Regions from separate parts of the Homo sapiens genome. Here region 1 is linked to region 2. Evidence: fine-mapped QTL for protein levels in blood plasma. Region 2 holds a variant in brackets. A gene starts in the other region. All regions are shown on their forward strands.

Region 1 (11,791 bases), not on the chromosome of region 2:
TACGTGTGCATGTGTCTTTAGATTCTAACTATTGTAACAACCCACTGGGGGAGTTCGCTGTCAGAGTTAGAAATAAAAGCATAGTTTTGTGATATCCTTACTCGGTCTTTTGTCATTTTATCTGGGAAGACATCCAATTGCATAACAATGACTTGGTTGTCTGGGTCTTTGTTTCACAAGTTCCAGAATGAGAATAGAATGCAGTAGAAAGGTAAAACCAAGGTGGCCCATACTACAGGAAGAAGCTTATTACTTAAACATATTCTGGGTTTCAGCTGTTTATGGGACCTGGTAGATACATATATGCCCCCCGGCTATTCTCAAATATAATGTTGAAGGACTATATAATATTAGGAAACATTTATTGAGCATTTTGGTACTTTGAGAAAAGCACTTTGTTTAAATTCTCATATTTGACTATTGTGACAGGAAAATAAATCTCAGGACTCAAAAATCACTAAGCCAAAGGGAAAAGTCAAGCTGGGAACTGCATCAGGCAAACCTGCCTCTCATTTTATTCCTAACTAAGATAACTACAAAGATTTAACAAGCTACATACCTCCCTCACAATTTGCCCACTAGGAAATTTTTGTGGGCCCCAAAATCTTTACCCTGAAATAGTTCTGTCAAATTTCATTCTGACAATGTAAATTGATAGCTTATCTTCACAGGTGTGGGACAAAGAACAGAACTCAAAATCATCCCTCTGCTCACCTGAGACAAATGCATGTCTGATTGCTTCCTCTCTCCTATGTTTATCTTATGTAAAAATGCAGATTCACTGAGCTAGATTAATGCACAAGTGACTATTTCTCTACTCCGCTATCACATGTGAATGGTTGATCAAAGGCTCAAAAGAATGCAACCCTTTGCTTCTCGCCTACCCACACCTCTTAAAAAGTATTCCTCGGCTGGTTGCAGTTACTCACACCTGTAATCCCAGCACTTTTGGAGTCAGAGGCAGTTGGATCACGAAGTCAAGAGATCTAGACCACCCTGGCCAATATGGTGAAACCCCGTCTCTACTAAAAATGAAAAAATTAGCTGGGTGTGATGGTGGTCCCAACTACTCGAGAGGCTGGGGCAGGAGAATCACTTGAACCTGGGAGGTGGAGGTTGCAGTGAGCCAAGATTGCACCACTGCACTCCAGACTGGCGACAGAGCGAGACTCCATCTCAAAAAAAAAAGTTATTCCTCTTTCCCCAATATCCACTCTTTCCCCTTTAAATATTGAAGCCCTCAAACTCATCTTTGGAGAAAGACACAGACCTGTCTCCTGGGTTCACATCCCTAACCATAGGAACATAAACTTCTAAATTGATTGAGAACTGTCTCAGATATTTTTTGGCTTACACTATGAATCAATGTTTAAGTTTTCAGTAACAATACACAGTAACCCAAACATTAAGAATGAATAGTTATTTCTGGATGATGAGATAATAGCTGATGTTTATTTTTTATGTATATTTTTAGATTTTCCCATCACCAGCATTTTCGGTTTACTGTTTAAAAGTTGTTTACAATTTTTTAAAAAGAAAACAGCACAGTGAGCTTGGTTTATAGCATTTTTATTGCAATTTTGCGCAGCATTTGAAATTTCAAAGCATTAGTAGAATTTGAAAAGAACAGTTCATTAACCTTGGCAAAGGGAGAAAATAGAGATCACTGTGGTTTCAACCGCTCAGCTATACCTTTTAGAAAAGAAGTTTTGCCTACCCAAAAGCCATCATTTTAATAACACAATATTAGTGTTCTACCAGGCAGTAAAACACTGTAATTAAACATGTGATAAAGCTCTGCCACCCATTGGGTATTTGCTCTTGTCTTAGCAAAGAGCACTCAAATCAGTCATGGAACAGCCATCAGTGCAACACAAAGTTTGTAAATCTTGTCTTGACATCACTGAATGCTTCTTTGACTTCCAAAGCTCTTCAGTGGGCATCTGTCCACCCCAAAGACGGTCTTCCCCTGAGGCATCCACCTTCGGAAGGTTTTGCGCTGGATTTTCCTCAGAAAACTCACGTTTATGTGGGAGCTGGAAGGAGTTTCCTGTCTCAGCTGTATGGAAGAGAAAAAAATAATACATCCTTAGACAGCTCCTACAAAGAAGGCAGCAACCACATTCCACTCCTGGGGAAATGAACTGGATCCCTAAAATGAAATAGAATCATACACATAATTTTTTAAAATGTTGGCCTGGTTTCAGAGAGATTAGACATTTTGGGGAGAGCACAGTCATCTCCACTGTCCTCATTTTACAGAGGCAGAAACTTGAGTGCAAAGATGAGGAGTGACAGTCAGTGTTGCTCAGCTAGTCGGGACTTGACTTCTTTTACTCGCTACCTCTGCTGGATGACCAGCAGCTTCCAATATTAGTTATGTGCTATAAACAAAAAACACATAAACAAAAAAAAACCCTGTGTATGCCCTGCAATCTCGATCAGTAAAGAAGGAAATGGAGATTTAAACCTCTATATCTGAAAATAAAAAGTGAAATTCACAGTTTTTGCCTAAGTGTTGTTTCCAAAGTTCATATATAAGCTTCTCTCACTTTAATTTAGTTCAAATTGACTTATCAATGCCTTAGCACACCAGCAGGCACCATGAAAAACTAGGTGAACAGATGCTGGTTGGTAAACCAGTAATTGATCAGATAAATAATGTGTGGGAAAACACTGAAAATCTGAGAAAGATTGAATAATAAGTAGTATGATTTCAGTGATGTCCAACAGAGCTAGCCTTATAGATATCCATTCCACTCCCCTATGTGTTTCAGAGATATCCCAAATGTATTTTTATAGTGCATTTTGGTTTGCTATTACAGAGATTGTTGTAAATCCTGGTAAATTATGCTTACTCTCTTAAGATTAAAAACCCATATAATTTTTGTTAGCAACTAGTCATATGAACTTCAATATTAAAGTGGTACTGAAAATGGAAAATACATGCTTTTTCAACACATTAGCCCACCCAAAGATGAACAGTTTAGGTCATTTTCTAAAAGGTTTTTATTACCAACATCATTTTAAATTAAACTGAAACCTTAACAATCATACATATAGTCGCAACATTTATTATGTAATCACATTTTTCCTTTTTAACTTTTTAGTATAAAACATAGCAAATACAACCAATTATTAAAATACACTCTTAAGCAAGGCACAGAAAGACAAACACCACATGATCTCACTGATATGTGGAATCTAAAAACGTCAAACTCAAAAATGTATAGCGGAGAACGATGGTTATCAGAGGGTGAGGGTGAGGGGGATGGTTGGGGAAGAGATGGTCAAGAGTACAGAATTTCCATTAGAAGGAATAATTTCAAGAAGTCTATTGTACAACATGGTGACTATAGTTAATAAAAATGCATTGTATTCCTGAAATTGCTAAAAGAGTAGATTTCAAGTGTCCTCATCACAAAAACATAAGTATGTGAGGTAATGCATATGTTAATTAGCTTGATTTAGCTATTCCACATGTATATTGTATGTATACCTATTTCAAAACAATATGTTGTACACAATAAATGTATATAATTTTTACCAATTAAAAAAATAATTTTTTAAATAGGATTTTCAGCCATGCCCAGTGGCTTATGCCTGTAATCCCAGTGCTCTGGGAGGCCGAGACGGAAGATTGCTTGAAGCCAGGAGTTTGAGACCAGCCTGGGCAACATTGCAAGACCCCACCTCTACAAAATATTTAAAAATTAGCCAGATGTGGTGGCACACACCTGTAGTCCTACCTACTCAAGAGGCTGAGGTGTGAGGATCACTTGAGTGCAGGGGTTTGAGGCTTCAGTGAGCTATGATTGTGCCAGCCTGGGTGAGAGGGCAAGACCCTGTCTCCAATCAAATAAATAAATAAATAAATAAAAATCTAAAAATAGGATTTTAAATAAATTCTACCTCATACTTTAATATGGAATTAACAGAAAGAATTTCAGTCAAATTTTTAAGTTAGTTGAATTGAATAATAAAGAAATATAGTGAAGTCAGCCGCTTCACCGTTTCTGAAAGACATTTGGTTCATTTCTTCCTTCAAAATCCTGATCAGACAATTCCTACTACTAGAATTCCCACCCTGCTTCCCCACCACCTTCCATAATCCCCAAATCCTTCAGGGCCTCTGTCAGTAACCACCACCTCCATGATGCTGTCACCTATTACAAAATAGGTGACATTTTGTAATAGGTGACATTTTGTAACATTCTCTTTCCCACCCGAGACTCAGTATGGAATTAGTAAAGACCTTGGCTCTTGAAGCCAGATAGACCCAGTTTCCTACCTAACCACATTTTCACCAGCTGGGAGAAGAATTTTCTTCTTGGTAAAATGATAAATGGTGGTAATTTTGCTTGCTTCCCAGGATCCTTATCAGAAAGCTGAATGAAATGTTGCACATGTAACTTCCCAGCACTTAAAAGTGCTCAATTAAGGTCAGCTTCTTTCCTTGCATCCATATTTAACAACTGCCGGAATTCTAACTTATTATATTGTACAATTATTCATGAGTGAAAGTCTTGCTACTTCAACACGCTCCTTGAAATCACATGCTTCGCCATAGCCTCCAAAGTACCTTCCACAGATGCTGAGCCCATTGAAGTAGTCATGCGATTAAATGATTTCAAGCAGGGGACTAAAAAATGAGGTAGTTATTTTTTGAAAGGTAGCATGCTCATCACTTTCCCAAGCCAAATTCAGTATATTTTGATAATTAATCCCTTAAATTGACATAAAAAATGCCTCAACAGTACTTAGAGAAACACTTAATAAAATAATGGTTTAAAACACAGCTTGAAAAAATAAAAGAGACATGTGAAAGGAAAATAGAGGAGACACATGAGTTACTGTTACCTTGCTGAGCTTGAGGGATCCCCTCCTGATGCCTTCTCCACCTGGAGCTAGCACAGATATAGATGACTGTCCGTATGTATTCTAGCCCACAGAGTCTCACAGACTCCTTGCTCCGCACTTCTGAGATGGCAAATAGGACAGAGAATAAAAACAGAGTGAAAATGGAGCCCTTCATTTTGCTGAGGACTGAATGTGAATCTGATATGGTAAATATAGTCAAATCAAATTCTGGAGTGACTGTCACTCTCTTGACCAATTTATACTAACTTTCCTGACATTTCATTGGTCAGAACCTCATTTTTACAATATTTGCTAAGCACATAGGGTTACACAGTAAAGTTTTGAAAATGCGGTTTTATGAGTATTGCCAGCTATTCAGTCTCTCCTTAATACCATCAACGCATCTGTGAGATGATAAAAACAGATGCCCTCTTGGAAGGCATTATGGAAAACTCACGGACTTTGAAAGTTGCCAAGAATGAGTTTCACTCTCAGCCTTGCTACTTACTGAGTGACATAAGGCAAGTTTTAAACTTTTTGAGTTGAGGCAAAGCCTGGTGGCTAACACCTGTAACCCCAGCACTTTGGGAGGCCAACACAGATGGATCACTTGAGGCAAGGAGTTCAAGACCAGCCTGGGCAACATAGTGAGACCTCCATCTCTACAAAAAATTTAAAAATTACTCAGGCACAATGGCATACTTGAGCCCAGGAGTTCAAGGTTACAATGAGCCATGACAGTGCCACTGTACTCCAGCCTGGGTGACAGTGAAACCGTGTCTCTAAAAAACAAACAAACAAACAAGTAAACAAAAAAACCTTTTGAACCTCAATAACCATATCTCTGGAATGGGAAGACCCATCTCACAGGGGTTTTTTTGAATATTGAAAGCAATATGAATGTCAGAACAATGGGATATCACACTTAAGTAGGCAATTTCTTATGTCCTGAGTTTGAATCCTGGCCGTTGCTGTTGCCTGGCTGTTACTTACCAGATCTAGACTCTTAAGCAAGTTTTTAAGGCATCCTTCTTTGTAAAATAGTGTTGATGATTGTAACTACCTCATAGGTCTAATGTGATAACATGCGTCCCACTTGGTACAATAAACAGCTAATAGGCCAGGCGCAGTGGCTCACGCCTGTAATCCCAGCACTTTGGGAGGCCGAGGCAGGTGGATCACGAGGTCAGGAGATCGAGATCATCCTGGCTAACACGGTGAAACCCTGTCTCTACTAAAAATACAAAACATTAGCCAGGCGTGGTGGTGGGCACCCGTAGTCCCAGACACTCAGGAGGCTGAGGCAGGAGAATGGCATGAACCCGGGAGGTGGAGCTTGCAGTGAGCTGAGATCACGCCACTGCCCTCCAACCTGGGCGACAGAGCGAGACTCTGTCTCAAAACAAAAACAAACAAACAAACAAACAAACAAAAACAAAAAAAAACAGCTACTAATTATTAGCTGCTTCTCCTCTCACCATCAGAATAGAAGACTAGAAAAGATAACTTCAGAATTCAGAAGATTTTATCTGACTAGGATCTTGTTATCCTTCACCTATGACCTAGGTACACTTTTCTCAACACACGTATTTATGATAATAGAAAGCTAAGTCCATATCCCAAATAGCTAAATAATGAAATTTCTCTTTTGGTAAAACCTCTGAAAGCACTAGCTCTTGCAAAGGTCTTACCTAAACTGAGAATCCCAGAGTTTGGGATCTTAAAGAACTGTTGACTCAGGTTTTAGCAAGTTGAACAAATAATGGTTCAGTTGATTCTGTGAAATCCTTGTCTGTGATTCCTGGTTGGAAAAAAATTGCTAAGTCTGTGGCCATGATCATATCATTTGTACTTCTTGTGAAATCACTGTTCTTCTGTAGGGAAGCTGGAAAATACAACAAAATAATCTGTTATCTAATTGAAAGCATTCTTTGCTGTAAAAAATAAAAATTATTTCTAAGAGTCTTGCTTTCTCCATTTCTTTGGCTGTAGTGTGAAGAATGGATTAAGAAAGGCAAGACTTGAGAAAGGAAAAACAGAAAAAGGCTGTTTCAATAATTTAGATATGATGGTGGCCTAAACTAAGGCCATGGAAGAGAGATAGGACACATGTGTATTCAAAATATAGAAGGGCTTGGTACTGACTGGGTATCAGGGGCAATGGAGAGAAAGATGTCAAATATGATACCTCGATTTCTGGCTTGTTCAACTGGGAGGTAGGGCGGTCATTTGCTAAGAAAGGGACCAAAGAAGCAGAAATGGTTCTGTCATCAGAGAAAGCTACTCCATCTTTGGATGGGTCAAAATCAGCATCTTTCATCAACTCCAGAGGGACGTCTGTATTACCATGCTTAGCACATCCACAACATAACAGCTATTGAGCCATGTATTACCAAACTTCTTCCCTTCTTTGGAGATTTATAGTGCATATCTTGACAATGCCAGTTTTAACATAGCACTGCAGTAGATCTATCATCAGTGGCTATGGATTGGGCTTCTGCACAACCCCAGGGATATTCAGCCAAGGGACGATCCCTACCTTGGATGTCAGATGGACTCTGGCATGATCCTGCTATCACCACACTTGATGCCCCTAGGTGCAAAGTAGTCCCCTCTTCTACCAGCTCTTAATACCTCATTAGGGCTCATTTAGTTTGGGATGGAAGGCTGGCAATACTTGAGCTCATTCTGTGACCTAATGGAGGCAAGTTAGACAGCCAAGTAGCTACCCAGATGAAAAAGCTCATGACAATAATAAAAGCCCTAGATGTGAAGCCTGAAATTTTGGGGCTTATTTTCCCCATTTGTATATTGAGAGGGTTGGATTTAATTGTTAAAAGTCTTCTCTGCACTTGAAATTATCAGTCTTGCTATAATTGTCTGATTATGTTACTCCCACCTCACAAACCTTCAGTGGCTCACCATTACCTCCAGAAGACAATCCAAACAATATCACATTTAATGCTTTCCACTCAGGTACCCAAACATCACTTTTTTCACATACCTCAAGGTCCATGAAAGGCTAACCAACTGAAAAGGAATCTTTCCATCTTTTGAGTAACCACAGTTTCTTTTTTGCACCTCTCACAGGAGCACTTAATCCCTTTCATTTGGAGATGGACGTGATTTTTCTTCCTCATTCTGGTCTGTAACTCAGTTTACTATCTATGTGGCAATTATTATGTGTCTTATTTCAGGTTTCCTTCGGATAGCTCTAACAAAATACCAGAGACTGGGTAGCTTATAACAACAGAAATTTATTTCTCACGGTTCTGGAGCCTGGGAAGTCCAAGATGAAGGTGACAGCATGGTCCGGATTCTAGGACCTCTCTCTGTGTCCTTTCACAGAAGATGGGGCAAGCTGGCTCTCTGGGGTCTCTAAGGTCATCAATCCCATTCATGAGGGTCCTGCCTTCATGACCTATTCACCTCCCAAAGACCCCATCTCCTAATTTCATCACCTTGGGGGTTAGGATTTCAACATAGGAGACACAATATGTAATTTTCCGCTCTGAGTTTTAATTTCTCCATCTATGAGGAGATAATAATCTGTGTTTTATAATGTTATTGTGAAGCAAAATGAGTTAACACAAGTACAGCACCTAGAATAATATATAATTCAATAAATAATAAATTAACAATGTCATGAACAAGGGATTAGAAAATATTATTTTTGGTTGGGACTAGCTACTATGGATGACTCTTCTGTATAACTCTTAATCTCAAAACCATCCATAAATTTGCACTGCTGTCGTCTTTTTCTTTCCTCCCTTCCTTCATCCTTTCCTTGCCTTCTTCTTTCCTTTCATCCTTCCACAAACAAGTTCTAATAAAGAAAGGTCTTATGGTACTGTTTCTTAAAGTGTTTTCTTCAGAACATGAGTCTTTGCAGATGGTCTTTGAATATTTTTTAAAAAGGATTCCATGATAGTAGTCTCTTTCTTTGAGATTAATAATGCCTACTAATATAGTAGAGCCCAGAGAAGACTTATAGTTATGAAATTTCTTTAACTTTGTTTAATTCAATGTTTTCACAACTTATTTGATGTTGGAAATAACTCCATTGTGAAATTGATTAACATCTGGGATTGCTGTGAATTTCTAGAGTAGACGTATCTCTAGTTCTCCTCTGTCCTGACACATGGTAGGGTTGTATTTCTCTGCTCTTTAAAATTGGGCAACACCATGTGGCATATTTTGGCAAATAAAATGTGAGTGGATGTGACATATGTCACTTCTGCCTGAAATTTAAGGATCGGTGTATGATCCTCCAGTTCTCCCTCTTCCTGGCTGTGGTTACCAACAACATTCCTGATGTGGGAACCTAATCACTGAGTCAGAACAATATGGAGCATAACTGCCCACTGATCTGTAATGAATATGTAATATGAATGGAAAAGAAACCAGCCCTCAGAAATAATGCCGCATATCTACAACTATCTGATCTTTGACAAACCTGAGAAAAACAAGCAATGGGGAAAGGATTCCCTATTTAATAAATGGTGCTGGGAAAACTGGCTAGCCATATGTAGAAAGCTGAAACTGGATCCCTTCCTTACACCTTATACAAAAATCAATTCAAGATGGATTAAAGACTTAAACGTTAGACCTAAAACCATAAAAACCCTAGAAGAAAACCTAGGCATTACCATTCAGGACATAGGCATGGGCAAGGACTTCATGTCTAAAACACCAAAAGCAATGGCAACTAAAGACAAAATTGACAAATGGGATCTAATTAAACTAAAGAGCTTCTGCACAGCAAAAGAAACTACCATCAGAGTGAACAGGCAACCTACAAAATGGGAGAAAATTTTCACAACCTACTCATCTGACAAAGGGCTAATATCCGGAATCTACAATGAACTCAAACAAATTTACAAGAAAAAAAACAAACAACCCCATCAAAAAGTGGGTGAAGGACATGAACAGACACTTCTCAAAAGAAGACATTTATGCAGCCAAAAAACACATGAAAAAATGCTCATCATCACTGGCCATCAGAGAAATGCAAATCAAAATCACAATGAGATACCATCTCACACCAGTTAGAATGGCAATCATTAAAAAGTCAGGAAACAACAGGTGCTGGAGAGGATGTGGAGAAATAGGAACACTTTTACACTGTTGGTGGGACTGTAAACTAGTTCAACCATTGTAGAAGTCAGTGTGGCAATTCCTCAGGGATCTAGAACTAGAAATACCATTTGACCCAGCCATCCCATTACTGGGTATATACCCAAAGGACTATAAGTCATGCTGCTATAAAGACACATGCACACGTATGTTTACTGCAGCATTATTCACAATAGCAAAGACTTGGAACCAACCCAAATGTCCAACAATGATAGACTGGATTAAGAAAATGTGGCACATATACACCATGGAATACTATGCAGCCATAAAAAATGATGAGTTCATGTCCTTTGTAGGGACATGGATGAAATTGGAAATCATCATTCTCAGTAAACTATCGCAAGAACAAAAAACCAAACACCGCATATTGTCACTCGTAGGTGGGAACTGAACAATGAGAACACATGGACACAGGAAGGGGAACATCACACTCTGGGGACTGTTGTGGGGTGGGGGGAGGGGGGAGGGATAGCATTGGGAGATATACCTAATGCTAGATGACGAGTTGGTGGGTGCAGCGCACCAGCATGGCACATGTATACATATGTAACTAACCTGCACAATGTGCACATGTACCCTAAAACTTAAAGTATAATAATAATAATAAAAAAAAGAAAAAAAAAGAAACCTTTATCATTTGAAGTCACTGAGATTTGGAGATTGCTCGCTATAACAACATAACCTGGCTTATCCTGACTATTATAATTATCTTACAGTTATTTACATGTTACAGATGGAGAGAACGTTTATAATGATTCAAGTTTCTAGATCAAAGCAAAATAAGTTATTTGGCCTTAACAACTGGAATAAATTACCACATTTTCAATATGATTGATTATATGAAGGCCTACCATTAATGTGTACCAAAACCCAAATTAACAACCAAACAATGAATTCAGTAAATATATCACTCACTTATTTACCATTTATAAAGGAACTATGACGACAGTATACTTAACAGATGGTGTTTGGAATAGGTTGGCATGAGTTGTATATACTGTTTGTGGCATTGGATTTTGGAAATCAGATATCAGTTCTTCCATTTAATATTTATGTGACCTTAATACTTTAGATTTTAAGACATACTTAAAATCTCTGAATCTCAGTTTCTTCATTTGTAAAATAGAGATAATAATACAAACTTTATTAGGCTAATTGTAAGGATTAAATGATCCAAAGAGTGCTGATCAGAGTCTCTAGCACAAGGAAACTTTCAATAGACTGATCATTGATGGAAATTATAATGGTGGGAATGCCACCAAATAGAACCTTGGTATTAGAATGTTAAACTTTTAGGATTGCTACTCTAGTTCCCAGCTAAGAGACCTTGAGGATGTATTTAACCTGTAATTTGGTTTTCTGATTTGTTACATTGAAAAATATCACAGGATCAATTGCGGTAATGTTAATTATAGCTCTGATAAATTATAAAGCATATCACATATAATTATTTGATGATAATTATGATTATGATATCACTATATATAAATTCATTAGCAAATACTAATTTATTTTTGTTATTTTCTGACACAGATAGTAGCTGCTCATCGTTGGCTAATACTTATTTTTAATGCTTCTAGACAGAGTCTTCATTAAGATGCGACGATTCTTCCAGCTTTTCCTAGAAGTCATTCACAACTCCTCATTTTCTCTCACACTCCATTGACTAAACCTTTTCCATACACAAACATCCACTAAATCACCAAGTCTCTTTGGTTCTACCTTCTAAATTTCTCTATGATCCACCCACTGCTCTCTATCCCCTCTACCATGACCTCAGGTTTCATTGGCATTG
Region 2 (11,791 bases):
ACTCCACTTTAGCTCCTATCAACCAGAAACACTTAGTTCAGTTCAAACTGAACTAAACTATACATATATATACGTGTATATATATATATACACACACATATATATATATACACACACACATATATACGTATATATATATACACACACACATACATATATATATACACACACACACACACACACACACATATGCAGGGAGCTGAGCTTGCTGTGTCAAGAGTCTAGGGACTCTTACTGAAAATAAAAAATGACTAATTTTAAATATCTACTACATGCCAGACAGCGTCTATCAGCAGTAACAGAAACAAACAGATAAATGCTACTAGTTGTAGAGTGTATAAGGATAGGATGTATCTAATTGATAAGGCAGAAGAGATAATAGTGTGGAGTGGCAGATTTGGAGTGTGTGCATACATGAATGTGTCTGTGTGTGTCAAGAAGAACTAGTTCCAAGAATGTTAACAGAATGTATGCTTTATAACTGTGTGAAGTTTTGATGGGTAAATGTGAGTTTATAAGGATGAAAAACAGGGGAAGTGTGCTTTTGCAGTGCCGTTGATAAAATGAGGAGAGACATGAATGAAAGAATAACATAAGCCAGTTTGTTGGATAACTACAAGAGAAGGGGTATATCGAAGTCTTAAATGTGAGGCTAGGTGCTGTGGGAAATGAAGCTAGAGAAAGCACCAGAGGTCAAATCATGAAAATCTTGAATTCCATGGACAGTGTAATGAACTTAAATTTTTGCAGAGCATCAAGAGCCAGACATTTCTAACATTTTATTCACCTTTTATTGACCACTGGAAGCAAGGAGCTTTGCTTTTAATAAATAAATCATTTTCCATCTCTTCTCATTTAATGCCAACAAAATTCCTTTCCCTCTTTAGTATCTTGTTTAGTGCCATTGGTTGCTTTTTTGAAGTCTGCAATACTCAAGTTTTACTCTAACTCAACAATAAAAGCTTCCCACAGTTTTGTATAGATATTTCCAAACAATTCATTTCAACCAGGATATATTGAATAGTTTTCATAATTAGCCTTGTGCTTTGATAGTGAGGGATACAAGACATAAGCCCTGTTTCTCTCTCAATTTCCTGCTGTATCTTTTATAAGGATAAAAATTCCTTTGGAGAACAGTCTGCTTTTGTTTATTATTCCTTCACCTTCAGTAACAATCTGAATTCTTTCCCTAATGACTCTGAAAATCCTCCAAATGATGTCACCCGTGATTTTCTACATGCCAAGTCCAAAAGTTTAATCTCAGATTTGTTTTTCTCTCCCTCATCTCAACTTTCAGCAATGTTTACCTCCTCCTCCTTGAAACTTTCTCCTTCATTAGCTTCAGTGATGGTTATTCTGTGAGGTTTTTTTTTTTCCTGTTTGTTAAACAATGGTTTTGTTCTCTGCCTTATAAATTGTGGGATTCTAGAGGAGTCTGCTTTTCTCCCAAGAAGTACCTCTTCTTTTCTTGCTTTTCATATGCTCTCCTTGAGATATCTTGGTTATTCTCATGGCTTTAAATAGCACTTATATCCAGAAGACTCATAAATCTGCAATCTAATTATGGCATCTCCAGAGTTCTGTATTTTAAAAGTTAGCAGAATCTTTAACGCTGTGGCAAAGTTTCTGGTTTTAAGCGTAAAGGTAGTAATGAGACATGAAAATACAGTGAAGCAATCAAACCTGTAATTTAGAAAAATAATTGACAGCATTTTGGAGAACAAAGCTCCTTGCTGCATGTGGTGAATAAAAAGTAAATAAAATACTGTGGCTACCCCTGAGGGACATCTCTACCCATCATCACTCAGTTACTTCAACTTCTATATGAGACAAATGGAACTCATTCTCTCGTCCCCTCCAAACCTGGCTCTTCCTCCTGCTTCATTTATCAGCAAACGACATCGAACTCTAGTAAATCATTGAATTAAAATTACTACCCACCACACACACACACATGTGTGCACACACATACCCTCCTCTTTCTCTCTCTCATCCCTTACATATAAAGATTAGTTTTTAACTGATTCTACTCCTGAAATGTAAAAGATGAGAACCTCGGGAGGTCTATATAAGAAGGCCAAGCAATTGTTAGTAGTGGGTATTTGCAGCTATTATTTCATTGCATTTTTCTTACATTGAAAAAATCTTAAGTGTTTATATTCAAGACAAGAGGGGGACTAATGAATATCCTTAGAAGGAGGCACTAAATTTCCCCCAAGCTTCTCTTTTGTGCTGCCTTCACTCTAGAATCTTTCCGACCCATCCTCTCCAATCCATATATACTTTCATTTTCTCTCTTGTGAAATAAGCTATATTCTCTCAACTAATTTTTCTGCCCACTCGGATTACAATGATGCTCCTCTTTCATTGCACTATTATAAGCTATAGCTTGTGGCTGTCTTAATCTGCTGAACTAGACCTTATAGTGTCATCAGTATTCTCCATGCTATTGTCAATGGTATGGCTATCATGTGTGACTGACCTGGGTTCAGATTCTTGCTCAAACACTAACTAGTTTTGAGACCATCTACACCATTAATAAAAATATTACTCATAGAAATAGCTACCATTTACTGGACACGTGTTCTGTGAACATTATTGTCCTCAGTGCTTTATAAGCATTATTTTAATTCTTACTATGTCATCATGTGACAAGTATTATTAGATTCACTTTAAATTCATTTTTCTGGTAAAGACACTGAGTATCAGAAGTCTGAAACATATTTGAAATCACATACAACTGGTGAAAGTCAGAGCTGAATTTTTAACTCAGGTCTTTTTAATTCCAAAGCTCGTGCTCTCAAAAACAATTGTTTTACTGAAATCTACAAGTAATATAAACTTTCTGTGACCCAGTTTCCTCATCTATAAGACAGGATATGCGCTGTGTCTAATACCAGTAGCTGGCAGGCAATGCGTTCGAAATTGGTAACTTTTCATTTTTAGTAATAGTTATTGGGCATAGAAATGAGATTCACTGACTGTGATAAATATATCAGCACACTGATTAAACCATTTGACTAAAAACAAGTTATCTAACCTATATCAGGCAGAACGAAATACCCATTCTCTACGTATTTCCTGGGAATAAATAATTCTGAAATTCTACCGTCCTCCTCAGCCCACCATACCAACATCTAATCTAATTCTGCACATTGTGAGGAAATTACTCCCTGTGGGTGAGAAAGTCCAATTCATCTAGAGTCAAGCATTTTCATTGAACAAAACAGTTTTACTTACAGAGCCCATACAGCAGTTCGGCCTGTTCCTTTCAGGCTGACTCAGAAGGCTGAGGAGGCTTTAGATTCCAGGGGAGGGCCGAGCTTGCAAATATGAGGAGACTTATTCCAGCCTGACTGGAGACAGGCACAGAGCTGAAAGGCCAATTCCTGGTGGTGGTGCTAACTCACTGTGTCTTCAGGGTGTGGAGATTCCCAGAAGACTTCTTTTGCCTCATACAGTCCTTTTATATCTGTTCCATTATGCAATTACTTACGGTGGCTATGTGCTTTATGGGCTGATGTAACCTTTTTTTCATGTGTCATTTCACTCAAAAGCTTTTTTATTTAACAGCTTTATTGTTATATCATTCACATACTATAAAATTCACCCATTTATAGTGTATGATTCAATTTTTTTTAGTAAAGTCACAGAACTGTGCAAGAACCATCATCACAATTCAATTTTAGAACATTTTTTATTACCCTTAAAAGGAACCTCATAATCACTAGCAGTCACTCTGAAGGAGATTTTAAAAAACGAAATATTGTAGCAAATTGCTAAATGACATCTCCCATTATGAGTGAGAGTCCAACTCCACCCCTTAACTCCTCAGTATCTATGATTATTCACAGCAGTATGGTTTCATTAGCCCACCTGTGGTTCTTTGCAGCAGCAGTCTTTCTCTTACAGATAAAAAATAATTCATTTACTCATCCATACATATATCCAGTAAATATTTCATAAGAATGTCCCATATTCTAAACATTATACTCAGTGATAGAGTTTTTTTTTTTAAGAATACACCATAATTCTTACTGTTTAGGATTTTAGTGTAGAAGATAGACAGGTTAACCAATAATTACATGTTAACCAATGATAAGGTTATCCTAGAGGCATGAACCAAATGCTTGGTGAATACAGTAGGTAAAAATCTTGGTTCACAACTTACTTGTGTATAAAATACGGTTTCATTTACTTTTTTATAATTTGACCTATTTCGTATTTTGAAGTCCCAACCTACCAGGTTGAAGAGAATTAGTCACAATAATTTGGGGTTCTCTCTACTTATAGTCAAATTTTGAAAATCTTGTATTATACCAAGAAAAATTGCAGGTAGGTGGGTGATTGACTTGGCCAATGATGTCACCTTCTGTCAGTTTACTATCACTCTCATTAGTCTTTAATAAATAGAATGCATAGATTGCTATAAGTTGTCCATCTTTTCTCCTTATGGCCTCTTTAGATCCTTAGATATTCCCACCAATTTGGACCACACTTGGGCATATGGGTCTTTGATTCATTCTCAGTTTCTGTCTCTTACACCCTGCATTTAATCCATTGGTAAATTATGTCAATCTCTTTGAAAAATACAATCAGAAATTGATCACTGTTTATCATCTCCAGAAATGTCACCTTTATTTAAGTCACAATTATCTCTCACTTGGGTAACTTCAGTAGTTTCCTAACCATTCTCCCTGCTTCCGATATTATCTCCTCTCCACTATCAAATCTGTTTCACTACTGAAAATGTCATGGCCTGAGATATTTTCTTCTTCATAATGTAATAAAAACAATAAATAACAAGAACAATAATATTTTATTATGCATTCTACATCCATGATACTAGGCCAAGTGTTTGTGGTAGACAGGATAATGGCCCCTAAAGATACCTATGTCTTAATGCCTGGAACCTGTGAATATGTCACCTTACATTGCAAAGGGACTTTGCAGATGTGATTAAAGTTAAATAACTTGAGATGGCAAGATTAGATGGATTAGCTGGGTGGATCCAATATAGTCACACGGGTCTTTAAAAGTAGAGAACCAGAGAGATGGCAGCATGAGAAGGATTTGATCCACTGTTGCTGGCTTTGAAGATGGCAGAAGGAGGCTACAAGCCAAGGAATGTGGAAAGCCTCCAGAAGGAGAAAAGAAGATAATTGATTTTTCCCTAGCCCCTCCATAAAGAAATGCAGCCTGGTGATTCCTTGATTTTAGCTCAGTGAGATCCATGTCAACTTTTGACTTACACAACTCTACAATAATAAATTCAGTAGAAGAATCCATTATTAGTTTGATTTATGTCTTAAACCATGTTTAAACCAAAAATTAGAGTGTAAGTAACTTACCTAAGTTTCTCAGTTATAAATGGCACAAGTAGTATTCAAAGCCTCGGCTATCTGACACCCTCTCAGTTTTCAAAACTCATTTTCTAAACAGTCTTCACATGACTATCCATTCACCACTACTTTCAATTTGAGTCATCTACACCCAAAAGCCTGCATGCATGCTGATGTGCCAAACTGAATGTTAACAGGTTGTCACTTGTGCATGCTTATTCCTTGCACATAAAGGTATTTTATTGTTGTGTTTCCGCACAGGAAACTTCTTGAGACCTTTGAAAACACTTTCTCTACCAAGTTGGGCAAATTGTAGGGCTGTGACTCTTTTCCCATTAGTCTCAGAAACTATTTGGGAATAGTCACATATTTTTATTCTTATGGTTGAAAGAATGTTACTCTTATAAGAAAAATAAAGTTACTATAGTGGTACCATGTAAATTCTGTGCCAGAGCTTAGTACATGAAAATGAAACTAGTGTGTGTACTGGTTAAAGCACCAATACACACACTGGCACACTACGTCAAAATATGGCTCTTCTCACTGCCCTATTCTCATGCCAGCCTAGCAGAACAGTAGCTGGTAATTTAACTAAACTTTCTGAAAATTTGAGTTCAATGTTCCTCCATGAAATCATACAGCAACACATCTTATTAATACATTAATATTAACTCCATTGAGTCCAGGAAACATATCATAGTCTGTGATGTCATTTGACTTCATATTAATGTTTCTGAAACTTGGTAATCCAAACAGGAAGTACCAAATTGGACATAGGAAAACTCTGCACTAGGAACTTGAAGTAAGTCTTATTTATTGACTGTCAACATTTACTACGGTAAACAGTAAAATATTCTTGGCTATCAAATCAGCAAATGTTTTTTAAAACACATAATACATAGTGTTGTGTTGCTGTGTTACAGTGGACTAAGCATTGTTTTACAATGTT[T/C]GCATGAACTTTCTGGAAGCATATTTTCCAGTATATTGTTGTCTTAAAATGTCCATAATATTCCATTTCTAAGAATTTATTGAAAGGAAGATATCAGAGATGCAGGCCATATTTTATGTACAGGAAAATTTATTGCCCCATTATTTACAGTGGTAAAAAATATAGATAAAAATTCTCAATGATACAGAATATATAAAGCATTTATATCGAGTCCTGGGATGTTATGCAACCTTTAAAATTTGTGCATATACCAGCTCAAGTGGATGGTCATGCTTGATCAGGAAATAGAAAAACAAGTTTCAGGGCTAAGACTAGCACAAGGAGCAAACAGTTTAAGATATAAAAGAAACAGGGTTTGATACAGGAGCAAGAGGCCAGAGGCAAAACAGGTAATCCAGGGTTAATGCATTGAAATTGTAGAAATAAACTTAAAAGAGAACAAACAATAACAACAGCAACGAAAACGGGTTGCTGTGTGTTACTGTTTGAATATGTCTCCCATGTTGGAAATTTAATTCCCAAAGTCATATCTTGATTAGATATGAAGACTTTGGGAGATAAGTTGGATCAGATAAGGTCATCATGATGGGACTGGTGGATTTATAAGAAGAAAAAGAGATCTGGGCTGACACAAATGCCCTTGCCCTTTTGCCATGTGATGCCCTCCACCATGTAATGGCAGCACAAAACCTCTCTCCAGAGGCTGGCACCATGCTTTTGAATTTCCTAGCCTCCAGAACTGTGAGCTAAATATACTTCTTTCCTTCACAAATTACCTAGTATTTGGTATTCTGTTATAGCAAGAGGAAATAGATTAAGACACTAAGTCAAAAACCATTTTGTTTATACTACTGTTCAGAAAAATTATTAGAACTCCATATGGCCTACTAGCCCTCCATGGTCTGATGAAAGCCTCACTCACCTCTTTTCCTGGATCCAGCCATGTTGGATTTAGCAGTTTTCCTACCCCGTTGATATGGCTAACACTGACCATTCAATTTTGGTGTATATAGAAATGTCACTCCTCCTTACCTCTCCCTGTGAACTTCTAGCTATTCCTAATATTCCTATTTATTCCATTCTTCTCTGCTCCCACTATATCTTGTTGCACATGCTTTCATTAAAGTTCTTAATTGATTTATTAAGAGAAATATTGTATAGATACTCTACATATATCTGGTATTGAACAAGATCCTGAGGGTATAACAGTGAACACGATAGATATCAACCCAAATATTACACAGTTCGAAGTCTAATGGGGGATACAAATAAGTAAATGGGAAATTAAAATACTGTATTATAATTACTCTACAAGTGGTATTCACAGAGATCTTTGCTATTGAAGGACCAATAATGTTAGCATCGCCTGGAAACTTGTTGGAAATGAAAAGAAAATTAGATCTTCTGAATTAGAACCTGCGCTTTTGCAAGATACCTAGCGCATTAATGTGCCATTCATATTTGTGAAGTGCTGGTATAGATCACCTAGGTGCTGGGACAAGTTAGCCTGTGTGATCAAGGGAGGCTAACCAAATGTAATTGATAATATGAGATCCGAGTGAGTGAAAAGGGTTTTGACAGGGGAGCTAGTAATGAGGGCAGGAGAGTAGAGTAGGGTGAGGAGATGACAGAAGGTTAAGGAAATGTTCCAGGCATGGTCAGCTGCTGTGGTGTTTCATCTGCTTGGCGGACTGAGGACCAAATTAGGGCACTGCAAAGTAGGGAAACTAAAAAGAAAAATTAAAAAAGGATAAAAAACCCCCACATAATTAAGCTTCCATTAATTTATCCACAATCTGCAATCAGAAAATGTAGGATAAAAAGTTATTTTAATTTTAATATAAATAAAAAATAAAACTGTTTTGAATTATATTTGAAACAGAGTTTAGGAATCAGTAAACATCATAATACTGCCTCAGAGAATAGAATGAGAGAAGGCTCAGACCTGAGCCAAACCATGCCATGTTTAGGAAACTGAAAATGAGCTCTGTATGACTGAAGGGGAGAGAGTAGAAATAAATGTTTCTCCACCTAAAGCAGTCGCAAGGCCAGATTTCTGAGGACCTGGGAAGCCAAAGAATTGAAAGCAGGATAATGTCCTGACCAGATTTGTGTTATAATGGTTGTCTATCTATCTGTCTGATATATGAGTTCCTTGAGAGTAGATACTACACCTTCTCATCTCAACATTGGAACATAGTATCTGACACATACTAGGCACTAAATGATAATTTAATAAAATTGCTATATTAATGAGAACAATAGTAATCATGATAAATAATAAAAATAAATTATTACAATGATTAATAACACATTTTGAGTGAGTGCAAATGTGCTAAGACCTTTTTATGGATCAATACTGGGTTATCTTATTTTACAACATAGACTTATAAAGCAGTATAACGATTTTCTCCACATTAAAAGCAAAAAACAGAGGTGATGTAGTCTAAGGTCACACGATTGGTGACAGAGCTGAGCTTTGGACCAAGGTTGTCTGGTTGTCTGGTTGGACCAAGGTTGTCTGGTTCCAAATACTTTCAGTTGAACCAATGCTATGTTGACTCTTAATGGACAGGTAGATGTAGGCAAGTGTGTAACATACTTAAGTCCTGGGACAGTACAATTAGAATAGACAACCAGTCAAAATGAGCATTGATCATTATGCCCTTCTTGTATCCACTGATTGTTAAGCCTTGGCTGGTGAATGGTTTAAATGTCTGGAGTGTGCACTAAAAAAGAGTCCGAAGCTCTTCTGTGTTCCATTTTCTGCAGCTGTGTGTAGAAGATCAGCCTGCACTTGTGTCTGTGAGCATGAACCAGTGCCCCTCAGACTGGAATTCCTAGCATGGATAGTAAGATTTTCACATTTATTTCCCTGTAACAGCCTGGACGTCTGTTTTTGCTTCTGTATCTTGAAAGCTTCTATTTAAATTGTGCATTTTTTCCCACGGAGTCTCATACATTATGTGGCACATTTATCTGGGACTGTTAAGATTTCCCCCCTAACCCATTGAGGTATTTATGGGGGAAGATTATGCTTCTATTAGTCCAGAAAATACCTAAAAAGAGAGCATATTTTCTCAGGTTCTTTATGAACTTCTGGGAAAAAATGCATCTTTCCAGATTTTCCTAGGGATCTAGAATCTTGTGACATGAGAAGAAGAAAAAAATTAAACAGGATAATTAAATTTTCTGCTCTGTAGCAACTCTAACGGGAATAGTTAACTCGTCCCCTTCTTCCATACAGCAGGACTTTGTAAGGTAATGGCCTCTTGATACAGCCTCTTATGCCAAGAAACATGTTTAAATAGTTGTCCTTGAAATTTACCAAGCTTCCAAGCTCACCATTAATTGTGAAACGCTGTATTAATGACAAAGCTGAAAGCCATTTATGAGTGTCCACAGCTTAAATAGAAGCTGTCTGTCAAACATGGTTAATTCTCCACCACAGTGGTAAACATGCTGGTAGCAGTTTTAGGACAGAGCAGACTAGTATCTCTGTAAGCTAGCAAGGGACACACAAGGGACTCATAAAGTTTTGTAGTCTTCCTTTAGTCACTTCCTCTTAAGTTGTCATTTTCTGTGACTATGCACAGGTTAGCAACAGCTCCCAGGAAATTCAGGGGAGGGCCTGGGCCCTCAATCAGAAAACCACTGCACTACCTTCAGTGAATGTAGTAACTCAGCAACCCCTTTCCTATTTGGGTTCCGTGTCTCGTGATTGCTGTGAAACCGGCAAATGGCAGCTGAGCAAACTCAGCTGTTAATGATCCGTTAACAACAACACTTCTTCCTTACTCTGGCTCTATGCAAAGTTGTCCTACAGCTGTTTAGGGCTCAAATTGCTCTTGAATGAGAATTGAAATTGCAGTTCATCTATAGAATTATCTTTTGGGGAAGAAAGAGTGAAGATAGACTGAAAATATGTTGCCTTTTACAATTTGTTATTTGGAGCACAAAGGGTTAACAGGACACAGCTGTAGGGAGTTCTCCCCTAGGAATTTGCTTTTCTGCTGGGTAAATGACTCTCACCAGGTGACTTCTAGGCTCCTTATAAAGGCTGTTTTTCTCAAATCTGGTAGTTCTCCTATTCCTGAATTTTTTCCCTATGTTTTCTCCTGGCAGAAGAGGACCTCTTTGTCCAGGGGCAGGGCTGATCAGGGGCTGATTCCGCAGCTATAGTAGTACAGAACCTTTCTGCAAGTAAGTTAGTGAGGTTGAGATAACTCTCTCTCACTTGCTTTGCATTAATAGATTCTCTGCTGTGTGGGATGATCCTTCAAATAGCAGGGGGCAGGATCAAATAACCTCACCTTCCAGACCCAAGAATTCTGTGCACAAGGTCAGTGTTGTAGTGCATTGAAGACAGTTATAAATAAATTAGGTACTGTATAACCTTCAGATAGTATATGAAACAAACGCGGAAGTATTCAGAGTAAATGTGAGCATGAACTCAGTAGTGTATTTTCATACGTTATGTCAACTCAAAAATATCGTTGTAGCGTTCAAAATAGTTATTCCAAATATAGACTACAGTCATCAGCATGTGTTTGTTCATGCCACAGTAAAAAAAGAAAAAAAAATTTAAATAAGGAGTTTGCGAGAGCATGGCGTTTGGAGTAAGAACAGAGCTCAATTCCTGAATCTGCCATTGGCTTGTTGGGTGAATTTGAGAACGTCGTATGTTTCCTCTGAGACTCGATTATCTAATCTTACCCTGCTTTCTCACCCATAAAGGGGAGTTATTAATACCCAATAATGGTGTTGTGATAGTAATGAATGTGAAGCTTTGTTGTGAGGGCTGTCTATTTAGATGTTCCTGGTAGTCTGGTAATAGGGATGTTTAAGTTATAGGCTCTGTCATGGAAGAATTCTCAGTGGGGGAGAAAGAGACACTTAAAGAGAACTGTTTAAGAAGAGTTTAATATTTGCTCATTAGTTTTAGCGCAGGACAACTCAAGACTGGTTTAAGAATCACAGAATTTTTTTTAAAAAGCTATTATTGGCCGGGAGCAGTGGCTCACGCCTGTAATCCCAGCACTTTGGGAGGCTGAAGTGGGCAGATCACGAGGTCAGGAGATCGAGACCATCCTGGCCAACATGGTGAAACCCCATCTCTACTAAAATACAAAAAATTAGCTGGGTGTGGTGGCATGTACCTGTAGTCCTAGCTACTCGGGAGGCTGAGGCAAGGGAATTGCTTGAACCTGGGAGGAGTAGGTGATTGTGCCATTGCACTCCAGCTCCAGGAGCAGGGATGGTGGGGGCGGGTGGTGGTGGTGGTGGTGGGGGGAGCTGTTCTTGGACCCATGTTTGCTAATAGAGTTCCCTCTGTTACAAGAATCCTATTACGTTTCCCTTTGATTGCAGGAGTTGAAGAAAGATTCTATGAGCTATGTACAGTGGAAAGGGGGACTCAGATTCAGTGAAGTAAATTGTTTGGCACGTAGAAGGCATTAAATACATTACCACTAATTTTATTAGAGAGAAATATAGCCAA

Which allele goes with the higher level. Positions count from the first base shown, and alleles are read on the strand shown. Strength reflects both the effect of a copy and how common the allele is.
With allele T in place of C in region 2, the plasma level of the protein whose gene starts at base 5,090 in region 1 is higher (moderate association).

Evidence for each region. A credible set is the group of variants that fine-mapping cannot tell apart. PIP is the posterior inclusion probability: the model's chance that the variant is causal. Protein levels are from antibody-based Olink assays in UK Biobank. Linkage for the fine-mapping came from a reference panel and not from the study's own genotypes, which makes the PIPs less certain.
Region 1: it holds the start of INSL5, and the variant in region 2 is the best candidate, but not a certain one, in a credible set for the plasma level of the INSL5 protein (UK Biobank, PIP 0.58).

Annotation. Positions count from the first base shown.
Region 1 is chr1:66,796,187-66,807,977 of GRCh38, forward strand. INSL5 (insulin like 5) reads right to left here and starts at 5,090. Exons shown (of 2, transcript NM_005478.6): 1 at 4,861-5,090; 2 at 1,554-2,059. The coding sequence starts at 5,035. The coding sequence ends at 1,827.
Region 2 is chr11:4,694,413-4,706,203 of GRCh38, forward strand. It overlaps OR51E2 (olfactory receptor family 51 subfamily E member 2), which reads right to left and starts at 3,441. Exons shown (of 2, transcript NM_030774.4): 1 at 3,241-3,441. OR51C1 (olfactory receptor family 51 subfamily C member 1) reads right to left here and starts at 3,441. Exons shown (of 2, transcript NM_001396051.1): 1 at 3,241-3,441. The coding sequence starts at 3,249. MMP26 (matrix metallopeptidase 26) reads left to right here and starts at 10,372. Exons shown (of 8, transcript NM_021801.5): 1 at 10,372-10,633. The variant T/C (reference allele first, on the strand shown) is at 6,292.